Homo sapiens: one gene and its partners. The protein of the gene in region 1 purifies or fractionates together with the protein of each later gene. This does not show direct contact. Each region holds a gene or a part of one and is shown on either strand. Other genes may lie near its edges.

The links. The genes of interacting proteins can lie anywhere in the genome.
Region 2: the proteins of UPK1A (region 1) and SLC29A1 purify together in Homo sapiens (affinity purification with mass spectrometry; 2 studies listed by BioGRID and IntAct, with this or other methods). This does not show direct contact.
Region 3: the proteins of UPK1A (region 1) and ALG9 purify together in Homo sapiens (affinity purification with mass spectrometry; 2 studies listed by BioGRID and IntAct, with this or other methods). This does not show direct contact.

The regions. Positions count from the first base shown.
Region 1 is NC_000019.10:35,661,055-35,670,009, reverse strand, and holds the start of UPK1A (uroplakin-1a), read right to left. Parts: upstream 3,494-8,955; 5' UTR 3,472-3,493; intron 3,202-3,471; 5' UTR 3,198-3,201; coding exon 3,114-3,197; intron 2,063-3,113; exon of another isoform or gene 1,557-2,062; coding exon 1,356-1,556; exon of another isoform or gene 1,325-1,355; intron 1-1,324. UniProt on the Homo sapiens protein: Component of the asymmetric unit membrane (AUM); a highly specialized biomembrane elaborated by terminally differentiated urothelial cells.
Region 2 is NC_000006.12:44,225,692-44,233,903, reverse strand, and holds part of SLC29A1 (equilibrative nucleoside transporter 1), read right to left. Parts: intron 7,844-8,212; exon of another isoform or gene 7,737-7,843; intron 6,895-7,736; exon of another isoform or gene 6,865-6,894; intron 6,645-6,864; coding exon of another isoform or gene 6,591-6,644; coding exon 6,562-6,590; intron 4,515-6,561; coding exon 4,433-4,514; intron 4,316-4,432; coding exon 4,113-4,315; intron 3,998-4,112; coding exon 3,858-3,997; intron 3,558-3,857; coding exon 3,423-3,557; intron 3,337-3,422; coding exon 3,239-3,336; intron 3,094-3,238; coding exon 3,015-3,093; intron 2,541-3,014; coding exon 2,443-2,540; intron 1,907-2,442; coding exon 1,798-1,906; intron 1,562-1,797; coding exon 1,476-1,561; intron 1,098-1,475; coding exon 898-1,097; intron 488-897; coding exon 376-487; 3' UTR 1-375. UniProt on the Homo sapiens protein: Uniporter involved in the facilitative transport of nucleosides and nucleobases, and contributes to maintaining their cellular homeostasis. Functions as a Na(+)-independent transporter.
Region 3 is NC_000011.10:111,781,386-111,785,484, forward strand, and holds the end of ALG9 (alpha-1,2-mannosyltransferase ALG9), read right to left. Parts: 3' UTR 810-4,099; downstream 1-809. UniProt on the Homo sapiens protein: Mannosyltransferase that operates in the biosynthetic pathway of dolichol-linked oligosaccharides, the glycan precursors employed in protein asparagine (N)-glycosylation.

The DNA.
Region 1 (8,955 bases):
GAGCACCACTTCCCTGGGTCAAGGGCTTTTATGTTTCGCTCAGCACAGAGCCCCAGTGCCCAGCGTAGGGCTCAGCATGTAGCTCCTGCTCATAAGCATTTGTTCATCAAATGAGTGGCTGCTTCTGGGAATCTGAAAAACCCTCTGCTGTCGAGGAAACACAGTGCTGTCTCTGTGTCATTGGGGCCGTGAATTGGAATCCCTGCTCTCCTGGTCACCTGGGAGAGGCTGTTAGCCTCTTTGAGCCTCAGTTTCCTCATCTGGTAAATGGGTTGAAAAGCACTAGCTGTGAAGGGCTTCTGGCAAGATTGAGGAAGCTCATTTTCTTTCCTTTTTTTTGAGATGGAGTCTCGCTTTGTCATCCAGGCTGGAATGCAGTGGTGTGATCTTGGCTCACTGCAACCTCTGCCTCCCGGGTTCTAGTGATTCTTCCGCCCCAGCCTCCTGAGTAGCGGGGATTACAGGTGCCTGCCACCATGCGTGGCTAATTTTTTTTTTTTTTTTTTTTTTAGAGATGGGATTTCGCCATGTTGGCCAGTCTGGTCTTGGACTCCCGACCTCAAATGATCTGTCCGCCTCAGCCTCCCCACGTGCTGGGATTACAGGCATGAGCCACTGCGCCTGGCCACGAAGCTCATTTTCTAAACTGCTTACCCTAGTGTCAGGTGCATGAGAGACACTTGGGAAGTATGGGTTATTCTTGTGGGCAGAGATTAAGAGCACAGCCTCAAGAGCCGATCTGCTCAGGTTGAAACTGGCTCTGCCATTGTCTCAATGTGTGACCCTGGATAAGTGACTTCACTTCTCTGAGCCTCAGTTTCAATCTTCATCAAACAGGGTCATGATGATGACAGTATCTCTTGGTGGACTATGAGGAATAAATGAACTAATCCAGTAAACCATTTAGAACAGCTCGTGGCTTGTAGTAAACCATTATTAAATGGTAGCTGTGCTATTATTGGCAGAGTTCATGAGCATGGACTCTGGAAAGCAGCTAGCAGGGGTTCAAATTCTAGCCCTGCACTGGGTGCAGGTAGAGGGGCTCAAGCCTGTAATCCCAGCACTTTGGGAGGCTGAGGCAGGAGAATCATTTGAGCCAGGAGTTTGAGACCAGCCTGGGCAACATAGTGAGACCCCCATCTTTACCAAAAAAAAAAAAAAGAAAAAATCCCAGCTCTGCTACTCAAGCCTGGGTTATTGGGCTGTGGGAAGACTGAATGAGATGATGCCTGGGATCCCTGAGTGTGACACCATGGGGAACTCACACTAGTGGCTGGGGCTGCACCTGCTACTATGACTCAGTGATGCTGAACTCCGTTTTCAGTGTCCCCATCCCCCAACCCCTGGAGTCTCACCGTGAGGACCATGGACCGGCGGCGGCAGAGTGCGGCACCCACACCAAAACTGGCTACCATGAAGAAGGAGAAGCCGCAGAAGATGGCAATCCAGGCACCAGCGAAGACGTCATCCTTGCCTGAGACTCCCATCAGTGGGTATACACGGTACTGGTCGGCTGTCACCCATATGGTCTCAGCAAACAGGGACAGGCCTGACAGCTGGACAGAGCGGTGGGTTAGGAAGGTCTGCTCGGGGCCAGCAGCCCTGGCACCAGGCATCTCCACGAGCAAGTTCCCTCCCCATTTGGAGCCTCCACTGCCCTCTCAGTAAAGTGGGCAAAGACCTCGCCTTCCATGAGCAGCGATGAGGGTGAGCAGAGGCCAGGAGAGAAGAGACAGCCCAGCCAGACAACCGACCCCCACGCCCCAGCTGCCAGTTTCTTCGGGGATAAAAGGGGATGCCACGTGGAAAGGCTGGAGCAGTGGACTGGCACAGAGGAGATGCTTGGTCCATCTGCCCTCCCTTGACAGTGCTGTTATTCCCCGAGGAGGGGAACATGGCCATGGCCATAAACATTACAAATGGGCCAGGCAAGGTGGCTCACACCTGCAGTCCCAGCATTGTGGGAGGCCGAGGCGGGAGGATTGCTTGAGCCCAGGAGTTTGAGACTAGCCTGGGCAATAGTGAGACCCCGTCTCTACAAAAAATAAAAAAATTAGCTAGATGTGGTGATGTGCACCTGTAGTCCCAGCTACTTGGGAGGCTGAGGCAGGAGGATCAGTTGAGCCCAGGAGTTGGAGGCTGCAGTGAGCAAGCATCACACCACTGCACTGCAGCCTGGTCAACAGAGTGAGACCCTGTCTCTAAAACAAACACACGGCCAGTCGCGGTGGCTTACACCTGTAATCCCAACACTTTGGGAGGCTGAGGTGGGCAGATCACCTCAGGTCAGGAGTTCAAGACCAGCCTGGCCAACATGGTGAAACCCCATCTCTTCTAAAAATACAAAAAGTAGCCGGGTGTGGTAGCATGTGCCTGTAATCCCAGCTGCTCGGGAAGCTGAGGCAGGAGAATTGCTGGAGCCCAGGAGGTGGAGGATGCAGTGAGCCGAGATCTCGCCACTGCACTTCAGCCTGGGTGACAAAGGGAGAATCTGTCTGAAAAAAAAAAAATTAGCCGGGCGTGGTGGTGTGCGCCTGTAATCCCAGCTATTCTGGAGGCTGAGGCAGGAGAATCACTTGAGCCCGGGAGTTAGAGGTTGCAGTTAGCTGAGATCAGCCACTGCACTCCAGCCTGGGCAACAGAGTGAGACTCCGTCTCAAAAACAAAACAAAACAAAACAAAACAAAACAAAACAAAACAAAAAACACAAAACCAAAACCCAATGTTAATTGAAAGACACTGTTGTTTTTCCTTCTTGTGGCCTCCTGTGCACCAGGCTGTCACTTTATATCCATAGTGATGCTGATGGTGATAGCCAGCATTGGTCGGGCACTTTCTCTGAGCTGAGGGCCACACATGGATTAATCCACATGACAACAGCCCACACAATGAGGACACAGTCTATAGATGAGGAAAGAAGGCACAGAGAGGGACAGTCGCTTGCTAAGGTCACAGAGCTGGGGAGAGGCAGAGCTGGGATTTCAACCCAGGCTGTGCTGACCACTGAGTCTGCCCGAGAGACAGTTCTGGACCCTCATCCCCCACCCCGAGCTCAGGACTGTCCCCTCCCCACCACACAACCACTCGGCTCCCAGCACTGGGGCGAGTCTCACCAGAATAATGATATTGCCCACAACTAGCAGGCCCACCACAACTGGAGATCCCTTCTCGGCCTCCGCTGCTGCCGCAGACGCCATCATCCTGGGACACATGAGCAGGGATGAGGCCAGGAGCGTAAAGGGCCAGCCGGACCCCCCATCTCTGAGCCACACCCTGGCTTCGAGGGGTTGCTCCAGCTCTCTGCGGGGCCCAGGCTGGTACTGATGTACCCACAGCCCTGGTGGGGAGGCATTTTGCACAAGAGGACACCCGGGCTCCGGTGGGGCAGTCACTGGCCTGAACTTGGCACTGCCCCTCCCTGAGCCTCAGACCCCTCATGCCATACCCAGACTCCCAGGGCCCCCTCCTCACCTTCTCTGTCTGCAGCCTCTCTGGCCAGCCCCACCCACCGTGGCTCCCTATATACGCCCAGGCCCCTCCTTGGGCTAGTCTCCCAGGAAGGAGGGAGGGTGTGTGTGTGTGTGTGTGTGTTTTGGGGCACGGCAGTGGGGTGGACAAGAGGCTGAGCCGGCAGACCAGGCTGGATGAACAGCTTTGATGGGCTCCCTGCCACCCCCATGATTTATAGACCTGAAATACCAGATTGTGTAGGACCCATGGCCTCTGGGTCCCAGGCTTTGTTGGCGGTGGAGGAGTTGGAGGTGGAGGGGCGTGCGCACCACCTGGTGTCTCTCTTGCTAGGACATGGGCCTTCCTGGGAATAGGAGCAAGATCCAAATCAGGGCGGGGCGTGGTAGCTCAGGCCTGTAATCCCAGCACTTTGGGAAACTGAGGTAGGCGGATCGCTTGAGCTCAGTAGTTTGAGACCAGACTGGGTGACATAGTGAAACCCCGTTTCTATAAAAAATACAAAAATAATTAGCCAGGCTCATGCCTGTGGTCCCAGCTACTTGGGAGGCTGAGGTGGGAGGATGGCTGAACCTGGGGACAGAGGTTGCAGTGAGCCAAGATCGTGCCATTGCACTCCAGCTTGAGTGACAGAGCCAGGCCCTGTCTCCAAAACCAAACAAACAAAAAATCCACTTCGGACCCACAGGTGGGTCCTGAATCCCAGAAGTGTCTCTCCTGCTGTGTGACCTTGCACAGGTGGCTGCTCCTCTGTGAGGCCGGGAGCCCGTGGGGAGGCCCAGGCAGGGACCCCTGCCAAGGCCAGGGCTGGACCGAGGCAGAGCAGTGGGGAGATGAGGGGACAGGTGGAAGGGGCGCTTAGGAGGCTGACTACATGGGCGGTGGGCTGAGGGAAAGGATGGCACCCAGGATAGGTGTGTGAGGGGAGTCTGAGATAAGTGCAAAGATGGGGGAGAAGAACGTGCTAGAAAATGAGAGGGGGCACACCGGGCTTGGTTGAAGAAAAGTCCCCGTCGCCCCCCAACACACGCATGGACCAGACATTTATTTCTTCAGGTGCAGAATGAGAAACCTAGGTTCAAATCCCGGTTCTGCCTCTTCTGGGCGGCACGACTTGGCTTGTGGATTTGCCCATCTGCGAAATGGGTATCATCAGACCGCTTCCCTGGCGGAGGTGGGGACTGAGCCAGCGCGTGTCCCCAGGGGCCGCCGATGCTGCCCACGAGGCCACGGTCTCTCCGATGCCACGCCCTCGCAGCGCAGGGCTGGCTCCATGCAAAAATGGTGGCCCAGGGCCCCCGACACCGTCCCCAGAACTTCTCAACCCCAAGGCTAGGCCGTGTATTGCCTCTGCTGTGGGAGCAGTGGCTCCCCACTGCGGTGCCTGCGAATTTGGCAAATGACACTGAAAATCCCATCGTCAAGGCACTGGTTTGGTAATAAGATACATGAGATGTTTTCCGATTAAAATGGTTAATTTGGTTTTAGTCAACCCACTTTAGATTTTAAAATAGTTTTTTTGGCCAGTCGTGGTGGCTCACGCCTGTAATCCCAGCACTTTGGGAGGCCAGGGTGGGGGGATCACCTGAGGTCAGGCTGACTAACATGGTGAAACCCTATCTCTACTAAAAATACAAAATTAGCCAGTCGTGGTGGCAAGTGCCTGTAATCCCAGCTACTCAGGAGGCTGAGGCAGGAGCTAATCGCTTGAACCTCGAAGGCAGAGGTTGCAGTGAGCTGAGGTCGTGCCATTGCTCTCCAGCCTGGGTGACAGAGTGAGACTCTGTCTCCACAACAACAACAAAAATCTGTAAAGTGTTTATTCAAGAAAAGCAGCTGAATCTTAGTAAGAGCAGTGAACTTTATGACTTTTTTAAAATTTATTTTTATTTTTGTTTTCTTGAGACAGAGTCTCACTGTCGCCCAGGCTGGAATGCAGTGGCACGATCTCAGTTCACTGCAACCTCTGCCTCCCAGGTTCAAGCAATTCTCCTGCCTCAGCCTCCCGAGTAGCTAGGATTACAGGCGCCCGCCACCACGCCCGGCTAATTTTTATACTTTGTGACATTTTTAATTGGCCTAGTTCCATTCCCCCATTCCAGCTCCATGGTAGCCTTGAATATTAACTGCCAGCATTCTCAGTGGAAACTAGCAGCCTGGCATACACCAAACGGGGCAGAAGAGGATGAAACTCCATAAAAGCCTCACTCCCAGAAAGTCAGAATTATTTGATTCGTCTTATGGTTCCCTGGAAGCCCCTACTTGCAATGTTGTCTGTATTTGACCTAACTTAGAGCTCATACATCGTCAAAATTATTTCCCCAGGGGCATTTGTGAAACACAATTGCATGCAATTGTTTAACTAGGCAGCTGCCTAAGCAATGAATAACAGTTGAGGCCAATAATAGGCTAATGAAACAGTTTAAAAGATAAAGCTGGGGAATGAGAAGGCTTTGAAAAACTCCAAAATATTCTTGGAAATCTAGAAGGTCACATGCATGCATAGGGTTGTGTGCATGCCCAGGAGTATATGCAGGCTCAAGAAAGACCAGAGATGAGAACCCAGTCTTCTTACATTGGGCTGACCTTGAGGATGTGTGCCTTCCTGGGAGAAGTAGTGGCGAAGGCAGAGTTGTCAATTGCCTGGCTGAATGTCGAAAGCATGGCCCACCATGCCTCAGCAAAGGCTAGGAGATTATTGGTTTTTGGAGGCTAAGGAAATCTTTGTCCAATCATTAGCGGAACTAATGCTAAAGAATACTGTCTTTTTTTTTGAGATGGAGTGTTGGCCAGGCTAGTCTTGAACTCCTGACCTCAAGTGAACCTCCCACTTTGGCCTCCCAAAGTGCTGGGATTACAGGTGTGAGCCACCATGCCTGGCCTAAAAGCAGAAATTATTTTAAAAGAACTAAACAGAAACTTGGGACTTGAAAAGTACAGTAACTAAAATGAAAAAATTCAAATGGGCCAGGCGTGGTGGCTCATGCCTGTAATCCCAGCACTTTGGGAGGCCGAGGTGGACAGATCACGAGGTCAGGAGATCGAGGCCATCCTGGCTAACATGGTGAAACCCTGTCTCTACTAAAAATACACAAAATTAATCAGGCATGGTGGTATGGGCCTGTAGTACCAGCTACTCAGGAGGCTGAGGCAGGATAATCACTTGAACTCGGGAAGTGGAGGTTGCGGTGAGCCGAGATCGCGCCACTGCACTCCAGCTTGGGCGACAGAGCGAGACTCCGTCTCAAAAAAAAAAAAAAAGAAAAAATTCAATAGAGGAATAGAGGGTTCAACAACAGATTTGAGTAGGCAGAAGAAAAGATCGGTGAACGTGAGTATAGATCAGTTGAGATGATCAAGTCTAAGGAACAGAAAGAAAAAAGCACGAAGATAAGTGAACAGAACTTCAGAGACCTGTGAGACATCATCAAATAATGGGAATCCCAGAAGGAGAGGACAAAAAGAAAGGGGTAAAAAAGAATATATGAAGAAAGAATGGCTGAAAACTCCCAAAATTTGATGAAAAAAACCATCAATCTAGAGCCAAGAAGCTCAATAATCTTCAAATAGGATAAACTCAAAGATATCCATCACCAGACATATCATAATCAAATTATTGAACGATAAAAAGAGAACCTTGAAAGCAGCAACTGACAAGTGACCCATCACGTATAATTAATCATCAATAAGATTAACAGCTGGGCTGGGTGTGGTGGCTCATGCCTGTAATCCCAGCACCTTGGGAGGCTGAAGCGGGAGGATCACTTGAGCCCAGGAGTTGGAGATCAGCCTGGGCAATATGGGCAAACTCCATCTCTACAAAAGAATACAAAAATTAGCTGGGTGTGGTGGCATATGCCTGTAGTCCCATCTACTTGAGAGGCTGGGGTGGGAGGATCTCTTGAGCCTGGGAGTTCAAGGCTGCAGTAAGCTGTGATCAGGCCACTGCACTCCAGGCTGGGTGACAGAGTGAGGTCTTGTGTCAAAAAAAAAATTAAAAAAAAAAAAATAATAAAATGAGAAAGATTAGAACATTTGGAAAAAATGCAGGCTGGCGTGCGGTGGCTCAGGCCTGTAATCCCAGCACTTTGGGAGGCTAAGGCGGGCAGATCACCTGAGCTCAGGAGTTGAGACCAGCCTGGGCAACATGGTGAAACCCCGTCTCTATCAAAAACAAACAAACAAACAAAAAACTAGCTGAGTATGGTGGTCTATGCCTGTGGTCCTAGCTACTTGGGAGGCTGAGGTAGGAGGATGGCTTGAGTCTGGGCGGCGGAGGCTGCAGTAAACTGAGATTACGCCACTACATGCCAGCCTAGGTGACAGAGTAAGACCTTATCTCAAAAAAAAAAAAAAAGCTGAAAAGGGGAATTAAATATATATTTCCAAATCTGCCCGCATGGAAATTACATTCCAGTGGTGCAATGATGAAGGATAACATTTGGCATGTTAGCGGTAAGTGCTTAAGAAACAAGGCCAGGTGTGGTGGCTCACACCTGTAATCCCAGCACTTTGGGAAGCCGAGCTGGGTGGATCACAAAGTCAGGAGATGGAGACCATCCTGGCCAACATGGTGAAACCCCGTCTCTACTAAAAATACAAAAATTAGCTGGGCGTGGTGGCGCGTGCCTGTAATCCCAGCTACTTGGGAGGCTGAGGCAGAAGAATCGCTTGAACCAGGGAGTCTGAGGTTGCAGTGAGCTGAGATTGCGCCACTGCACTCCAGCCTGGTGACAGAGAGACTCCATCTCCAAAAACTAAAAAAATAAATAAAAATTGAAAAAAGAGAAAGAAACAAAAGGAGTGAAGGGGCACAAAGATGGAGGAGCTGAAGGTGAAGGCTGAGTGGTCAGAGAAGGCCTCGCTAAATGAAGACCTGAAGGCAGTGAGGGGTGAGCTTGTGGACAGCTGGTGGCCAAACATTCCAGGTCGAGCAAACAGCAAGTGTAAAGGATCCGGGGTTGGAGCCAGCCTGGTGTGTCGAAATACATTTGCTCACAGTTCCTGTGCACTGAAGAGGCCAGTGTGGCAGGGGCTGTGTGAGCAAAAGGGCACCATATCCAATCAGATCAATATATTTACAAATACTTCTAGATGCATGAGCTATCTCTAAAGGAATGTACAGGAAACACTGGCACTGGTGGCAAACCCTGGGCAGAATCAGGCAGCTGGACTCAAGGAGTCCAGCACCTTGACTTTTCACTGGCCGTCCTGTTTCATTTGAAATTTTCATGGTGTTGGCTGGGTGTGGTGGCTCATGCCTGTAATCCCAGCACTTTGGGAGGCCGAGGTGGATGGTTAACCTGAGGTCACGGAGTTCAAGACCAGCCTGGTCAACACGGTGAAACTACTCTCTAAATCGCTACTAAAAATACAAAAAATTAGCTGGGTGTGGTGGCAAGCGCCTGTAATCCCAGCGTTTTGGAAGGCTGAGGCAGAATTGCTTGAACCGGGAGGTGGAGGTTGCAGTGAGCAGAGATCACATCA
Region 2 (8,212 bases), on another chromosome or scaffold:
GGACAGGCAGACAGTCTGACAGACACGGACGCAGACACACAGACACATACACAGAGACACACGTGTTCTCCAAGCCCAAGAGCCTCCACTGGCCTGCACAAGCAGGGATCAGTCAGAGCCAAGAGTGGAGAAACTCAAGCAAATGCCGAGGCTACACCCCGTCCCTCGACTCTGAGCCCCAAACCCACAATGTCCCCACTGTCCGTCCAGAGGCTCCCTCCCCAGGGCCTGGAGATCCGGGCCCAGCACACGCCGTGGAAAGCAGAAGTCAGTTAGAAGAAAAAACCGCCAGACCACTCAGGATCACCCCTGGCAGAAGGAAGGGGCAGGAGGCAGACAGGGAGGGAGGCAGGCAGTCCTTCTGTCCATCCTTTGTCACACAATTGCCCGGAACAGGAAGGAGAAAACAGCCCCCAGTGCCAGACCCAGACACAGGAAGAAGGCCATGATGGCTCCTGCGGTCTCTGCCTCAGCTGGCTTCACTTTCCTAAGCGGGGAAGGAAGGGCAAGGCTACCTCAGAATGGCTGTACCCCAGCCCAGAGCCTCTGGGTGGAAGGAGGGGTGGGGTGGAGCAACTTGACTGTCGAACCTCATTCTGTTGATCAACCCATCCTGGCTGCCTAACCCCAACCTGGCTTCTCCTCCTTGAGGGAACGTGTATGGTGGGGTTGTCTTTCACTCCTTCCTGCAAACCTGTCTCCACCTCCACCCAAGTAAGCTTGGCGCCCCCCTCCACTACAGTCACTATCCCCTCAGCCTGGGAGCCCCTCCTGAGCCATCTCTCCTCTCAGCTCTGGGAGCAGGGACTCTCCTTTTGCCCTCCCTCTACTGAGTGTCCCCCACTGGAACTCTAGATCCTGTCTGATGCCACCAAGTTCCCTGCCAGCCCTACTCACTTGGGCCCGAAGCACATGCAGAGGCTGGCGAGGTAGCCGTTGGAGAAGGCAAAGGCAGCCATGAAGAAGATGAACCAGGCATCGTGCTCGAAGACCACAGTCAGGTAGCGGCGGGGCTTAATGTTGCACAGCAGCAGCAGTGGCACAAACACCAGCCGGGCCAGCACCAGGCTTGGCAGCCAGCGGCTGTCCTTCCCAGGCTGTGGGCACCAGGCAGGGCCTCAGCCCAGGCCGCCACCCCAGGGCACAGCCAGGCCCCCAAGGATCCATCTGGGGCCCCTCAGGATCTGAACTGAAACCTCAAAGCCTGGTTCTCCTTAGGGGGTTACTCTTGAAAGGGGCATGGTGGAGCCTTCTGGAGTGCTGGAAATATTCTACATCTCGATCTGGGCAGGTATGTGTATATACATATATTCATTAAGTTGTACACTTAAGACTTGTACTTAACTATACATAAATTATGCCTCGACTTTAAAACAAATGGTCCCCTTACTACCATACTTTCTTGGGTTCCCTCTCTGGGTCCAGGCTGGACTCTTACTTCCCACAGGGGCCTGGGGCCCTCTTCCTCCACTTACCCACATGAATACAGCTGTGAGGCTCCGGCCCAACCAGTCAAAGATATTGAAAGTCAAGAAACAGGACACAGGAATGAAGTAACGTTCTGGAAGAGGAGATGAACGGGTGGTTATCAGGCTCACAGAGGCAGGTATAGCAAGCCTAACCTTCACTGGGCCTCAGCTTCCCCAACAGTAAAATGGAGAAGATGCTTCCAGCCCAGGGAAGGGCAAATGGACCCAGGAAACGGGGAGAAGGTGACCCAGGCTCCCTCCCTTCCCCACTTCCAGCCCAACTCAAGATCCTGTCTGTTCCCATCCTGGAAACCTGTGGCATCCTCACCCCAGGTGCTGCTGCCTGCGATGCTGGACTTGACCTCAACAGTCACGGCTGGAAACATCCCAATGGTGATAGTGAAGATGAAGCAGACAGAGAAAGCCAGGACTGAGATCTAGATAGAAGGGGTAGAGTCACCCAAATGCCTGTGTCTTCATGGTGGCTGTGCATTAAAGAACCACGAATCCAGGCCAGGCGTGGTGGCTCACGCCTGTAATCTCAGCACTTTGGGAGGCCGAGGTGGGTGGATCACCTGAGGTCAGGAGTTTGAGACCAGCTTGACCTGGTGAAACCCCATCTCTACTAAATACAAAAAATTAGCCGGGCATGGTGGCATATGCCTGTAATCTCAGCTACTTGGGAGGCTGAGGCAGGAGAATCACTTGAACCCAGGAGATGGAGGTTGCAGCGAGTGGAGATTGCACCATTGCACTCCAGCCTGGGCAACAAGTGTGAAACTCTGTCTCAAAAAAAAGGAACCACGAATCCCCACCCCCGGCACGCACGCATGGGCACGCACGCACACACAAAAGAATCCAGGAGTGACCACTCTCAGGTCAGAAAGGGAGGAGATGGGTGGCAGGGGGAGGGAGCAAAAGGAGGAGAGAAAGAGGACAAGGGGTAGAAGATAGGATAACCTCCCCTACGTACATTTTTCAGGATGGCTTTGATAGAGTGGCTTTCATTGGTGGGCTGAGAGTTGGAGACTGAAACTCCAGATTCCTCTTTGCCTGCTCTTGGCTCCTCTCCTGCGGGATGGAAGAAATCTCCAAGTTGTGGGGAAGACAGAGCAACAGAAGACAACATAAACATTCCCCAAAACGGCTGGGATTACTTGAAAGTAGACGCCTCCTTAACCAGTCCCAGCCGTACTCTAACCCTAACCCAGACCTCGCCTCCAAATCCCTACAACTCAAGACCCGGGGGCCTGGCCTCTCCCAGGAGCCTCAGGTCATGTTACTCCTCACTCAAGAATCTGAAATTGCTTCCCACTGCCTTTAGTCCAAACACCTCAGGCATTCAAGGTCATCCAGGATCTGCCCCCATTTTATCATTGCCGGCCCTTATTTCCTATTGTCCCCCTCTCCCTGCTGTAGTCCTTCAGTCCTCCTCTGGCTCAGGGCTGCTAGCTAACACAGGGCACTCATCTTTGTTCTCTTTGCTCATGCTATCCCCCGCCTGGTATACCATCCTCCACCCCAGCTTCCTCAGGCTCTTCGGACCTTTGCTAATGAGGTCCAACTTGGTCTCCTGCTCCCCGGGTCCTTCAAGCTTGAGCTGCTGGTAGTAGCGGTAGAATTCCTATCAAGTAAGGGAGACGGGGGAGGTGGATTTAGAGGCAGAATCTCCAGAATCCCGGCCTCCTTCAGGTTTTGTCCTCAGAACACCCGTGGTCTGGAACCCCAGACCCCTATACCCCAAACCCCAGCTCCCTCCATTTACTCACCAGGCGGGGCAGGCCCAGGTAACAGATGATGGTCAAAATGATAACAGCACAGGCTGTGATAAAGTAGCCGAAGGCACTTTCTGATAGCTCCGAGCCACCTGGGGTGGTGTCAGTGATCAGAGACAGGCCCCATCCCCTCTCCCCACCACACCAGGGCACTGGGCAGGTAGATAGCCGGACTTACTGGCAATAGCGCAGATCATGGCCACGGAGGCAAAGAAGCCTGCTAGGCCCTGGCCACTCATGATGGGGGCCGTGTAGCTGGCAGGCAGAAGGCCAGCCAGACCAAACAGGCTGCCCTGCAGGATGGCACCAAATGCTGGGGAAACAGGGCGGGCATGAGCAGGGGAGCTAGGGCTGGTGGTTGGGGGTGCCCAAGAAGACAGATCCCTGTCATTCCTACTTTACTCTTGGTGAGCCTTGAGGCTGAGCTGCCCTTCTCTCTGCCCCCTCCCAGCCCTGGTCCAGGCCCACTCAGGCCTCTGAATCCCAGCTGCTCACAGCATCCACTCCCTCCAGGCGGAGGCTGGGCTTCTCTCTGGCTAACGCTGGGTCTGAAAAAAGAGTGGGGGTAGTTGGGCATGCCTCCTCCCATAGGCCCCCTCCTGGCCCAGCTTACAATTAATGAGCACGATCTTGATCATGGTGATGACAAAGAAGGGCAGAGCATCCAGCTGCACCTTCACCAGGATGGCAGTGATCAGAAACACCAGCAGGATGGCCACCAGGCTGCCCAGGATCCGTACGGACTGGGGGATCCTGCCGGGAGAGGCCAAGGGTGGCAGAGACAAGTGGGCAAAGCTGGGGCTCAGCCAAGGGGGTGCAGGACACAGTGAGGGTCAGGCTGGGGGCTGGGGAGGGGGTGGGCACTCACCTCTGATGCAGGAAGGAGTTGAGGTAGGTGAATAACAGCAGGGGCAGCATGGCACATAGGGTCATGACATTGTTGAAGATGGCACTGAGAGAGTTCCGCTCAGGCAAGGGTGCTGCAGGGGCGGCTGACGCCTGGGCGTCCTTGCTCAGTTCAGCAGTGACCAAGGACACATTCTGGGACATGTCCAGGCGGTTTGTGAAATACTGCAGGGGTTGCAGAGAGGAGTGTTGAAATCTCTTTCCCTGTGCCTACCAGCACAGAGTCAGATCCTGCAAGCACAGTGGGCACTGCCCCATGGAGCCCAGTCCCTCCAGCCTCACCTGAGTGGCCGTCATGAAAAAATTCCACGGGAGCAGCGTTCCCAGACCCAGCATGAAGAAGATAAGCCAGACAGCTTTGTATCTGCAATGGAGGAGGAAAGATGGGCCAAATGACGCACCATCCTGCCCCACTCCACAATGAGCCCCAGGAAAGCCCCTGTCCGTTGTCAGTCTCTCTAGGTCCCAGGGCACAGGGCGTCTGTGTTTGTGTCCGTTTGCATGTGTCCTCTTATGGGTGTGGGGGGAGAAAAGGGTACATTGCTCGTTGGAATTTGGGGTGGGGATGGGGTCAGGGTCATAGGACTGAATGGCATGGCTGACAGGACCATGGTTATCAGCCCTGGAAGGCTCGGGGGACTCTGCAGGCTGGGAACCAGTGTGACCCACACATCCGGAGATGGTTTTGGAAATCCTGCCGAAGGGCAGGGGGTGGGTGGATGAGTGAGAAAGCAAGCAGCAAGTGTCTTCCACTCCCACCAGGCAGGCTGGAAGTAATTATGCTGTCTGGTCAGGGACTGTGTTACTCCCCAGAGAGGATTCTGAAGTTAAGAAACTCCCATACTATTCTGGACCTACAGGGCAGGTGGGCAGGGTGCCTCAGGGCCGCTGTGAAGAGAGGGCCTTAGAGCCATTTTCTTCCTGGCCAAATAGAACTTTGTAGTTCATACCACCCAGGGCAGGCCAGGAGGTATGGGGCCACTGGAGGCCATCTGGGCCTCAGGGTGTAAATAAGGACTGTCCACCTTTGGCCAGGGCAATGCCCCAAGCCCTATACCTCAAGGCCCTTCCGGGTCACGCCAGCTTCTCCCAGATAGGCCTTGCCTGAAAGCTGAGTAACCCCAGCCCGGCCCATGTAGATCTCCAGTTGGGTTTGCACACCCTCCCCAGAGCCAACACCAGCTCTCTTCAGAGATGGCAGGGATAAAGCCCAAGGCAGTGAGAAGACAGGCCTGGCCAGAGTGCAGGAGCCTGGACCGCTGGCAGGCCTCATACAGGGATGGCGTGGTGAGCACACCACGTGAGCAGGTCCGAGTTAATGCAACTGCAGCCCCCCCAACCCCCTCACATACATGCTTCCCTTGGAGAAGCTAAAGGCTTGGTTCGGAGGCCCAGAGCAGAAGGAAAAACTCCCAAAGTCACATAGGACAGAGGATCGGGGTTGGGGGGAGTACGCTGGGAAATGACTGAGCTGTGCAATAAGGCAAATGGAGCCGGCGAGGCCTTCAGGGAACTGCCCACAGGAGAGCGGAGGTGGGGACAGAATGGGCAGGCAGCCTGGGAATGGAGCACAGGAGGCAGGGAAGCAACCTGGGGCCTGGACTTATTGCCATGCCTCCTTAAATTCCCTTACTTCTAGATCCACTTCCTGGGAAGTAGATACTTTTAGCTTATTTTACAGGTGGAAAAACAGTCCCAGAGAGATTAAGCTACATGCTCAAAGCCCCCACAGGCAAAAGTGGCCTAGTTTCATAGCCTTTGGCACAGGAGGGAGATGGGGTGGGTAGGGCAGACGTGATGGGTTTCTGGGGCCTGAGTTGGAGGGCAGGACAGAGCCTGACGCTTTGAAGGAGCTTTGGATCTCAGGGATCACTTCCTCAGCCTTCTTGGGTCCCAGATCCCTTTGAGAAATTGAATTAAGCTACAGCCTCTTCTTCCAAAATACATATTCACAGTCATAACTGCAAGTCTAACTTGACTGGGAGTTCACAGGCTCCAGAGGCAGGGAATTGAGAGGAAGATCAGATCAAGAACCAGGGTGGGCCAGGTCATCTAAGGCAGAGGCCCCAGGGCAGTTCTGCCAGATGTGCATTGGAAGGAGGGGTGCAGCCAAGTATCTCCCCACAGTGGTGGCGGGAGGAGCCGAAAGCCGCTAACTGGCTGGAGAGCAACAGTGGAAACACAGACAGGCCAGGGAAGGACTGCTGCCCACGCACCCTGCCCTTCCCGCAGACACCCCAGCCAGCACCCAGCCAAGGCACACGGGGTCCCCACCCCTGATGCAGACCTGACTCATAGCTACCTGGCTGGAAGGCCAGCCAGCAATGGCAACCCCCAATTCCAAAGGACACCACACCCAGCTCCCTGAAAACCCATTCCCTGGATCCACAGCCCAGCCCCTTACCCCTTACCTGTCCTGAGGCTGGTGACTGGTTGTCATGGTGATGGTGTTCTCGGTTTTCCCTGGCTGACAGCTCCCTCCCTCAGGGGCCTGCTGGGGGCAGGAACAGTGTGAGGCCCTGTCTTGGCCCTGCCATAGGCCTCCTCAGGCTCTTAGGGGGAGAGGGGGCAGGGCTGACAGAACAGGCCAGTGGAGGAGTCCAGTAAGACCCCCTCTGCACCCTGCCCCTCAGGACGACTCAACTTGACCCCCACCCAGCCCCCTGGCCCAGCAGGCCAGTCCTGCGCGGCCCCCCTGCCTGCTCAGACTCTACCTGGCTCCCGGCCTGGCCGCTGCCACCGCTATTTTTATCCAGCAGCCGAAGCAGTTTATAAGCTGGGAAACAGGAGGGTGGAGAGCAGGAGGGAAGGAGGAGGAAAGATGATGGGAGGGAGGGAAAGACAGTCAAAGAAGGCAGGCAAGAGGACGAGAGGGGTCAGGGACAGTGATGACAAGGGAAGGAGGGAGACAAATGGAGGAGACACAGCAAAGAGGTCGGGGGAGGAGGAGGAAGGACACGGAACAGGCAGATCTGCAGCAGCTGCGACAACATCGATGATGACTGAGGTCAAACCAGAGGCTCCCCAGGCCCCTCTCTGCAAGTCTGGTCTCTCCACCCTCCCTGGGGAGCCCCTGGATTCATGGCTAGAGTGGGGCTGTCCTCTCCTGAAGGCAACCCAGATTCCAGTCTCTCTGCTGTTGGCACCTTAACCTTTCTTTCCAGCCACTGCCCAGGGGCTTCCTAGTTGCTGGCCGGTTTTCCAAGAAAATATTTCATAATGGATGTGGGGGCACAGCCCTTCCCCCTCCCCCCTCCCGACCCCAGGGTCACCTAGTCCTCCCTTAGTTCCTCTCTGTCACAGGCTCCTGTCCGCTTCCCCTTTCTAAGAGTGACCTTGAAAAGAAGATTGGAGGGGTGGATCCCAAAGCACCTATCCTTCTGCCTCAGCGTCCCTCTCCTGCTCCCCATTTGTGTAGGGGGAGACCCCCTGGCACCAGCAGATTAAACAGCTTTCCCATTGGGTGGCATGGGAAGCCAGGCAGATGTGCACTGACACATTCCCCACACTCAGGCCTAGCTGGGCCCAGGCCTTGCTGTTTGGGGTGAAAGGACAGCTTCCCTTCCCTCCCTTTCTGGGCACTCACCAGGTGCCCAGACTGGCCAGCAGAAGGGTCAGAGCAGAGCAAGCCTGGGCAGTCCCTAGGAGGTGCTCCTAGTTCAGGCTCAGGCAGTGGGCCTTGTCCACGGGCTCCTGGGTGCGGATCCAGAATGAAAAAGGTGGCACAGGGTGTTATCAGGAGAGAGTCCCTCAGGCTTCATGGGGCCCCATTCTGAGAAGCCTTGCAAGCAAAGAAGCAGAAGCACACCCAGGAGATAAAAAGCCACCCCTGTCGCTCGGGAGATAAGAGAACAGGGAGTCTCAGCAGGGGAGCTCTCGCAGGTGCAGCATTGCTTCTGGCCCCACTCAGACAAACAGAAGCAGCTGGGCACCATGAGACCTTCCACGGGCTCTCCCACCTCCCTGTAGTTCCTCTCAACCCTCCCCAGGGAAACTCCAAGCTCTCAGAGGTCCTCCTCAGCCCCTCAGCCCCACACCTCCAGATAGAGGCAGAAGGATTCC
Region 3 (4,099 bases), on another chromosome or scaffold:
TTGTTGTTTAAGGCCAGCCTGAACAATGTAACACATGCCATTTCTAAAATATAAAAATTAAAAAAAATTTATTCCTTCTGACAACCCCAACAAAGGGGGAAATTACCTAAGTGTTAGATATAACTGGATTAGGATTTCTAAGAAAATTAGACTCTCACAGTCCAGTGATTCTCATTCCAAAAACTTAAGATGGATCCAGGACTTCATCTCTTTTAGGTACAATGTTCATGTATTGAGTAATTCCTTTTAATTTTTATTCATTTTTTATTATTTTTTTTTTAGATGGAGTCTCACTCTTGTTGCCCAGGCTGGAGTGGAATGGTGCAATCTTGGCTCACTGCAACCTCCACCTCCCAGGTTCAAGTGATTCTCCTGCCTCAGCCTCCCAAGTAGCTGGGATTACAGGCATGCGCCACTACGCCCAGCTATTTTGTATTTTTAGTAGAGACGTGGTTTCACCATGTTGGTCAGGCTGGTCTCGAACTCCTGACCTCAAATGATCCACCCGTCTCGGCATCCCACAGTGCTGTGATAACAGGCGTGAGCCACTACGCCTGGCCCATATATTAATTCCTACTGTGCGTGGTTTTAACATAGTTAAAATAAAACTAATCCTCACTGGGTTTCCCAAAGTCTTCTTCTAAAGTTTTCAGAATAAACATTCTGGGATATTTGGCCTGTAGAAGGCAGGTCTCCACACTGAGGAATAGGGCTGGAGTCAGGGAGAAAGGACTTGAGCTCCTTCAGTTTCCAATTTCCAAGAAAGATTTAAAAGCAAAAGAGAAAATGTCACATTAAGAAAAAGAAAATCAAACTGCTACAATTTATTTAACTCTTTCTTTCACAGGAAATATAAGTATGTAATGTAAACACCGACACGTGAAATAAAGTACAAGGATCAGGAAGACAAGTGAATTGGACAATACTCTTGCTTTAACACTTTACTGCTTCCTGATTTCATTTGCAGCATGAATCACCTGGTTATACAGACTGGCAGAAGGCAACATTCAGATTTACAGATACACCAGAAAGCCTCTGAAATCCAACGATGCCATACGGAAGTCTGATCTTTCTGTTGCAAAAAAAATTAAAGCTGGGCACATGTCCATTTATCCATTTACCCAAGGCATTTAATGTAGGAGCATAAGAATGCACTGATTAACACGTGAGCTTTAATATGCTTGTGGAGGCCAAGATTAAATTGTACCTCTTCTCCCTCTTCAGAGAAAATAAAATTAACCAAATTAAAAGCAGAGCTGCCTGATACTAGCCAGAAGACTACATAATCACAGTGAATTCTTATTTCAATAAATCCCAGGAAATGCAAAACACAATAAATGATTGCCACTGGAGCTTTGCCCAAATGGTCACCGTAGACCTCATGCTGCAGAATCATATCAGGTTTTCAAGGTTCTTTCCTAGAACTCCAAAGTTGGAAAAATGACCCAGATAAATGATTGGGATAAAGACCCATCATGATTTAAAACAAAGGGTCTATTTCCAAACTTGAATTCGGTAATAAAGAGTATGGGCTGCAATTTTCTGTGATTATCTCAAAAAATTAAAATAACCTGTCTTCTTTCTTATCAGATGACACCTACCAGGTAGGAGGTAAATTTTGGTAGCAGATGCCTACCGTGCAGACTGGTTCAGTAATGGTACTCAGCATCACAAGATTTGGGGATTCAGATAAGGCTGCTTTAGAGCTAGAAATCAGAGAACCATGCATTTGCCAAGTATACCTACTCCCTCACTCACCCCATGATCAAAGGCTATTAAAAATTATCTGGGCCGGGTGCGGTGGCTCATGCCTGTAATCCTAGCACTTTAGGAGGCCGAGGCGGGATGATTACAAGGTCAGGAGTTTAAGACCAGCCTGGCCAACATGGTAAAACCCCACCTCTACTAAAAATACAAAAATTAGCTGAGTGCGGTGGTGGTGTGTGCCTGTAATCCCAGCTACTCAGGAGGCTGAAGCAGGAGAATTGCTTGAACCCGGGAGACAGAGGTTGCAGTGAGCTGAGGTCGTGCCATTGTGTTCCAACCTGGGCGACAGAGCAAGACTCTGTCTCGGGGAAAAAAAATAATAATCTGTAGTCCCACATCCCTCTATACTCCACAATCTATGGAGAAATAAGTATCTTGCATGCTTCCTCCTTTTGGCAAGCAGAACAGTCAGTGCAGGCTGAACACTGCTTTTTTGAGGGAGAACTGCTACTCTGAGCAGGTGTGTTGAAACTGTTTTTCCCAGGCAAAGCTATCCTTCCTATACTAAAAAGTGATGGAGATTTTTTAAAATGTGTTTATAAAATATCACATGAAAACACCTTCACAACAAAAAACATTCATTTCTATATTCCTTACCTATAACATTTGGCACAGCGTTCTGCCATGTATTGTGCTCTCACTAAAGACATACATAGAACAGAGAGATCCAAAATCAGGTTTTAAAAGTGATAGGAACTGATATTTCCAAGGAATCCCTGCATCAGTCCTGGCCTTTCTTTGCGCTATATTATAATTAAGGTTTTGTTTTTTTAAAAAAAAAAAAAAACAAGATGACAAAACAGATAAAACAGCATTATACTACTTTGATTAGAAAAAAGCCATTCATCACAGATGGACCTCCATTCCTGGATTCTTATTTACCTCTGGGAAACATAGAGGGCCTTAGCTACTGTGAAGAACAGCACATTATTACTGCAAGTAAGGCAAATGTTTCACTTAAAATTCTCTGTCCTGTAGTCAGATCATATGTGCTAGTTTTACACTGGAAAATAGTAATCAAGAATTGAGAATTAAATGCCAGAGATCTTTCAAGCAAGGGGGAGCCCAGTCTATCCTCACACACTCCCCAGTTATTGTTCTGTACTGTCTAGACCTATTACCTCTCCAGCGCTTCAACTCCGTCTCTGATATTCCTGCAGAGGAGATCTCAAAGAGGAGCTTTTTAATATTGTAACTAGCCATTTCTTCTGTTATCACTTCTTTTCTTCTCTCTTGGCACCAGTTCCTATTAGAATGCCCTTCTCTTTGAAAATGAAAGATGGGGCTGGGTGCGGTGGCTCACGCCTGTAATACCAGCACTTTGGGAGGCTGAGGCGGGTGGATGACCTGAGGTCAGGAGTCCAAGACCAGCCTGGCCAACATGGTGAAACTCCAACTCTACTAAAAATACATAAATTAGCTGGGCATGATGGCGCATGCCTGTAATCCCAGCTACTCGGGTGGCTGAGGCATGAGAATTGCTTCAACCTGGGAGGCAGAGGTTGCAGCGAGCCGAGATCGCGCCACTGCACTCCAGCATGGGCGACAGAATGAGACTCTGTCTCAAAAAAAAAAAGAAAAATGAAAGATGGAACTTCTGAAAAATAGATTCATCCTATTTGCAGATATTCAGATCAGTTACCCTTAGGGAAATAAGGCACCTATAATGTGACCCCAGATTGACTACAGGAATAGTACTGATATTTGGATCCTGTGTGGCTGCAAAAGAACATGACTTCCAAACAGAAGCACTACTTTCCTGCCACAGGTCAGGCTGCATCACACAGCACTGCTGTGCTGGTCTAACACACAGGCAGACTGGAGGCTCCAAAGAACTCAAATACAGACACAATTCTTCCTTAAAATAGAAAGTTACAATATCAGTTAGGTCTCTGGTTAACCTCATCAGTCCTTTCAAGTAATGTTTTCATGGTTGAGTGAGGAATATGGAGGAGCAATAGATGAGAGTAAGGAAACCTGGGTTCCAGTCCCAGCTCTATTACTTACTGGCTGTGTGACCTTAGGCAACTAACTATCTTTACCTCCCCTCACTCCCCACCCGCAGCCTGTTTCCTTATCTGTAAAATGGGGATAAAAATCACCTGCCTTGTCTACCACATGTTGTGACTGTGAGGATCAAACGAGATGCTGTGAAAGTGCCTTGTAAACTGAAGTACTGACTGTAAAGGCTTTTAAAGTAATAGTATACACTTATCACATTTTAATTAGGTCCTTATCATTGCCTATTTGACTAGAAGTGCCCCATGCAGGATGTGCCTCACAACAGACAGAACTAAAAAATAGGTGCTATAAATATACACTGATCCTTTTC